Linked DNA regions of Homo sapiens: region 2 is linked to region 1. The links come from fine-mapping of genetic effects on gene expression. A gene starts in region 1. The other region holds a variant in brackets. All regions are shown on one strand. Distances are between the middles of the regions.

Region 1 (2,906 bases):
TTACAGAGTGCTGTTTGGTCCGTTTTTACAGAGTGCTGACTGGTGCATTTACAAACCTTTAGCTAGACACAGAGCACTGATTGGTGTATTTACAATCCTTCAGCTATACAGAAAAGTTCTCCAAGGCCCCACCTGATCCAGAAGCCCAGCTGGCTTCACCTCTCGGTTATATGCTAATTATATGCATTAGCACGCTAAGAGAAACGCTCATCAGTGCCATGGCAATTTACAAATGCCATGGTAAGGTTCAGAAGTTACCCTGTATGGTTCAAAAAGCTGGGAAGCCCTCAGCTCCGAGAAATTGAAATTGCCCACCTCTTTCCTGGAAAACTCATGAATAATCCACCCTTGTTTAGCACATCATCAAGCAATAAATACAAGTATCCCTAGTCCAGCAGCCCAAGCTGCTGCTCTAACAATGGAGTACCCATTGTTTCTTTACTTTCTTAATACACTTGCTTTGGCTTTGCACTGTGCTCTCCCATGGATTTTTTCTTGCGTGAGCTCTAAGAACTCTCTCTTGGGGTCGGATCCGGACCCCTTTCTGGTAACAGAAGCACTGCTTCACGAAGATCATGCAGGTCAGTACTTAATAAGTACAAAAAAGTCTATAGCGACACTATTTATAATTTTAAAAATGATTGAAGTCAATTAACATTTAAGTGTTAAAAAGAAAGTAAACAACCCAAATATACACAAACAGTAGACTGCTCTGGCTTGCATACAGAGAGGTCCATTGCCCTTTTGGGTGGGCCTAAGAAGCACTTCTGGGGAGAGGGGGCGTCAGGCTGTGATGGCTGCGGGAGGAGTGACTCCTCCCAGGATGAGGGTCTCCATCCTCCCAGTGCTCACTCAAGTTCAGTATTTCCAAGTCCTTCCAGGGGCGTAACGCACGTCAGAACGGCCATTAGTGTCACAGATACGTGTCCCCTTGCATTTCCAGGAAATGCCCTTGGTTGGCGAACTACAGTCGTGACAGTCGGGCCACAGGGCGTTTTGTGAGTTATCGTCTTGGGCAAATGAGTGCCAAAAAAAAAAAAAAAAAAAGACCTGAAGGTGAACAGCATAGCGGCAGGGTTTGGGATGAGAGGAGCCCCTTTGCTAGCAACGGCGAGCACTTGCGCGGTACCAGCAAGGGCTGCCCATGTCTCGGAGGGAAACGTTTGTGTGAGCGCAGGAATGACCCGGAAGACCTTGGCACGGCTGCAGTTTTCTGGGAAATGTAATTTCTTGGTCCGGGCGCCATGGCCCTTATAAGTAGAGGGTGTCCCTTGGTTTCGAGTTGTATCGTTCACCAGAGGACGACTGTGTGCCCCAGGACAATTTGCGCATGGTCCTAGCTGGCCGGCTCTAGGTCGACGGCCCCAGGCGGTTAAGCTACTTACAAAGCCGTGACCGGTTTGCCCGCGGCGCACCAGGTCCGCGCAGCCGCAGAGACCCTTGGGAAGTGTGGTCTTCGGGTGCCGGCGGTTCGCGGCTTCCGGGACATTTGTACCGCAGGGGGAGGATTCTGGGAAATGTGGTTCGCCGTGGGCGGTGCACTGGGTCAGTCCCGCGATAGCTTCAGGCCTGGCGGCGGCTTCCAAGCTAAGGAACGGTTTGGGGCAGTGTCGTTCCCGGAGGTCGGCCGCCGTTACCCGCTCACCAGCTACGCGGCGCGTCAGGTCCGCGGAGGCGCGGGCTCGGGGCGCCTGCGGGACGGTGAGGCCCTGCTGAGGACTCCGGCAAGTGTGGGTCGCGGCGACGGCGGGGCTAAGGCCCTGGGTCCGCGCGCGGTTTGACCACGGCCGGGGCCTTGGGCATTTCCTGGCCTTCCTGTTGAGCCGTGTAAACGCGGGGTGATGACGGCGCCGACCTCTTGGCACTGTTGTGAGAGCGAAGTGGGCGCGAGAGCAGACGCCAGCTACAGTTTTTTTTGGGTTATGTCGTCATGAAGCCGGCGCTTTCAGTTGTGCAACCTTGAACAAATGGGTTCAGTATCTCGGAATTTCAGTTTTGTCTTCATTTTAAAAAATAAATCTGGTTTAGAACTCGACCTCAAGCGATCCGCCCGCCTCCGCCTTCCGAAGTGCTGGGATTAAAGGCGTAAGCCACCGCACCAGCCTAACGAACATGGCGAAACGCCGTCTCTACTAAAAATACAAAAAAAAATTAGCTGGGCGTGGTGGCACGTGTCTATAATCCCAGCTATTCGAGAGGTTGAGGTAGGAGAATCGCTTCAACCCGGGAGGCAGAGGTTGCAGTGAGTCGAGGTCGCTCCATTGCACTCCAGCCTGGAGACAGAACGAGACTCCGTCTCAAAAAAAAAAAAAAAAAAATCTGGAATAATATGAATGCACACCTTGCAAAGTGGTGAAGACTGAACGAGCTGATAAAGTTGTTACCGTTGTTTTATGAGTCTTTTGTATACAGAATAATTGATTTTCCCCGCAGGTGGCACCTGGTAAATAGCCCTTGCGGAGAAACACCCTGTTCCTTCCCAGGGAGAGATTGACGCTCCGGCGAGTGATTACCAGTGTGCTTTTCCATTAAGGTGTGTGACAGGTGCCGCAAGATAAGCCCGATTTTTCATGACTGCTTTTTCCTGCCTTTCTGTGCCCTCAGGACACTGCCCATCTCTAAGATAAGAACCTGGAAAGGGGACTCTGTTGGCCATTGGAAATTGCAGAATAATGTCTCAGGTAAGTCGGTGTGTCCCCAAATCTTCCTGAAACACTTTATTAGGCCTCTGTGTGTTTGCTTTGCTTCTCCTGCCTGTTCCCACCTAATCAAGTCCATTTAAGGGACTAGATCTATGGTTCCTTTCACTATAGGAAGAATGGAGCCCACAGGAGAGCTCCAAGGTATTGTCCTCATCACCCAGTGTTCCTCTTTTCTACAGTTTTCTGCTAGAAGACTTTCTAGAT
Region 2 (2,906 bases), 78 kb before region 1:
CCTTCCCTGCACCCTCATGGCCACCGTTTCAGAGGGAAGACAACAATTATTTGGTTTTGCCCTGTGAGCAGCAGCAGAGAGCGGGGCCCAGGGCAGGTCCAGGGCCAGACAGGCATCCCATGCTGCAGCCTCGAGGCCTGCAGGGCACATGATGGGGCCGGTGTGGGGGCGTCTCTTGTGCCAAACAACTGGGCAGGAGGTGCCCTGGGGCTGGTGGGTGGGTCAGGGCGTTTTCAAGAGCCATGTTAGGATAGAGAGTCCTGGAGAATGGAGTGAGGGGGCAGAGGGGGCAGAGAATGGAGGGGTCGGGGAGACTGCTCCCACTGCTTTCTGGCTTCTAAGTGGGGGTGATGGGTGGTAGGTGAGTGGCAGAGGGGTCAGCGGGGGCTGCAAGACTGAGCCAGGGAAGTGGAGGCAGCAAGAATGCAGGCCTTGCCTGAGGCTGACTCGGGGCTAGGAATTCTCAGAGGTCAGGGCCCTAGAGCTCCCGGACAGGGAGTTTGCAGGAACAGTGACGCAGCACATGCCACGGCACAACTTGACACAACACAACATGGCACAGCAGAGCAGTGTGCGGCACACTGGGCTGCAGCAGAGCGTGGAATGGGGTCTGTAGGGTCTAGGGAATTATGGAGCAAACCGACCTGAGCCGTGTCCCTCAGCCAAGGCACAGGCACTGGCCTTGAGCCACCCACTTCCTTGTGACAGCCTCATGCCCTGGCGTCCTTGGGGCTGAGGATAGGGCTGGGGCTGCTGTCCAAGGTGAGGTCACTAGAGGGGACTCTAATCCCCAGTTGTTTGAGGAACTTGGGCATCCTGCAGAGGATTTTTGGACACCTCAGCCAGGCTTTTGGGGTGGTGGGGTCTGGACCCAGGGGGAAAACCATGGGGCATGGCTTTGCTGGGATAGGGAGGGTAGGGGCAAGAGTGCAGCTGGGTGTGGCCCTGTAGGCACAGCATGTGGCATCTGCCAGTCCCCATTTCCTGCCTTGCTTCCAGCCTGTGCTGTGATGCAGGAATCACTTCCTTGTGACAGGTCCGTGCCCTGGCCTCTCTGTGGCTGAGACAGGGCTGGGGCTGGTGTCTAAGATGAAGTGTGACTCTAATCCCCTGCTTCTGATCCCCAGTTGTTTGGGGAACTTGAGCATCTTCCAGGGACCCAGTGGTGTAGATGGGACTCCTGGGCTGTTTAGTCAGGCCTCTTGCCCACGTGGCCACATTGGCTCCCACTCAAATCTGGCCTTGGGGCCTGCTTGGCCTCTGCTTACCAAGTCCTGTGGTTCTCTGCCAGGCACCATTGGCCCTGCGGCCAGGCTGGCACCTGGAGAATGGCCTGCCCCCAAATCCTGCACTCCTCCCAGCTCACCTGCTTTGCTTTTCTCCTGCACTGGGAATTGGGAGCTAGGTTGATACTGGGAGAGGAGCTCCCTCAACTGTAGGTTCACCTTAGAGTTCTGGGACAGGTTTTTG[A/C]GAGATGAGGCTTTCTAGAAGGGCCTGGAGCTGGTGAGCCTGCTGAGCAGGGAGTAGTCCCACAGCAGAGGGATCTATGGTGGAGGAGTGGGATGGGTGGGGAGGACGACCCAGCTGTGGAGGAGTTGGGGCAGGCAGGTCACATGGGTGCAGCTCGCCCTTTCTCCTTCTCCCCATCTGTATTAGTCTCTTTTCATGCTGCCAATAAAGACATACTTGAGACTCTGCAGTTTACAAAAGAAAGAGGTTTATTGGACTTAAAGTTCCACGTGGCTGGGGAGGCCTCACAATCACGGTGGAAGGTGAAAGGCATATCTCACATGGCGGCAGCAAGAGACAGAATGAGAGCCAAGCAAGACAGGTTTCCCCTTATCAAACCATCAGATCTCGTGAGACTTATTCACTACCATGAGAACAGTGTGGGGAAAATCCCTCATGAATCAATGATCTCTCACTAGGTGCCTCCCACACATGTGGGAATTATAGGCATACAATTCAAGATGAGATTTGGGTGGGGACACGGAGCCAAACCATATCACCATCCTCTCTTCCCTCCCTGTCCTCTCCTGTCTTTTCCTCCCCGCCCTGTTCTCTCCCTCTTCCCCCTGTTCCTCAGTCTTCCTGCCTCTCTTCTTCCTTCTCCATTTCTCCCCTTCTTCACTTCCCATTTCTCCCTTTCCCTCCTCCCCTGACCTCTAATCATCTTTTTATTGTGACATAGAACACAAGTATGGAGACGTACACACCATGTAAAGTGTATCTTAAGTGATTACTGTAATGCAAACCTCACAATGCGCCCTCCAGTTCAAGAAAGATCATTGTGAGCCCCTCAAGGCACCAGCCTCACCTCCTAGAGTAGACCACTGTCCTGATTTTATGGTTTTTTTTTATTATACTTTGTTTTAGGGTACATGTACACAACGTGCAGGTTTGTTACATATGTGCCATGTTGGTGTGCTGCACCCATTAACTTGTTGTTTCAGTGGATGGTTTTTCTACCTAAACATCTTCATATACAGTAAACGTTAATTTTGCTCTTTTACAATTTATATGGCTGGGATCGTAATGTGTCTGTTCTCCCGTATCTTACTTTTTTGTTCCCCATTGTTGTTGATATTCATCCATGTTGTTATCTCCATTGTTTAAGTCTACCCTGGTACACTGATTCTATTATCATGAACAACACTGTAGGGAGCTTTCATATGTTGATGTCTTGTACACGTTTATATTCACATTTGTTGGGGTTTGTGCCCATGTGTGGAATTTTAGGTGATAAGGCATTCATATTCTTGACTATCCTAGGAAACAGGAAACCTTGAAAGCAGTTGTACAATGCACTTCCCCAGCCACACTGTAGTATTTCCTGCTGCTCTAGATTGCCACAATCTGGTATCGTCAGTGTTGTGTGAACCATCTGGTAGGTAGGTGTCAGGGGC

Evidence for each region. PIP is the estimated chance that this variant, and not a neighbour inherited with it, causes the effect. A credible set is the group of variants that fine-mapping cannot tell apart.
Region 2: its variant is the best candidate, but not a certain one, in a credible set for the expression of SCGB2B2 in pancreas (GTEx, PIP 0.69).

Annotation. Positions count from the first base shown.
Region 1 is chr19:34,676,133-34,679,038 of GRCh38, forward strand. SCGB2B2 (secretoglobin family 2B member 2) reads right to left here and starts at 1,027. Exons shown (of 4, transcript NM_001025591.4): 1 at 1-1,027. ZNF302 (zinc finger protein 302) reads left to right here and starts at 1,546. Exons shown (of 5, transcript NM_001289187.2): 1 at 1,546-1,971; 2 at 2,605-2,681. The coding sequence starts at 2,673. It also overlaps the pseudogene ZNF807P and the pseudogene SCGB1B2P. RefSeq lists enhancers at 518-1,415, 1,075-1,174, 1,225-1,284, 1,416-2,312 and a silencer at 1,735-1,794.
Region 2 is chr19:34,597,689-34,600,594 of GRCh38, forward strand. All of the region lies in intron 1 of SCGB2B2 (secretoglobin family 2B member 2), which reads right to left. It also overlaps the pseudogene ZNF807P and the pseudogene SCGB1B2P. Among named protein-coding and RNA genes, the nearest start is that of SCGB2B2, 78 kb to the right of the region's middle. The variant A/C (reference allele first, on the strand shown) is at 1,471.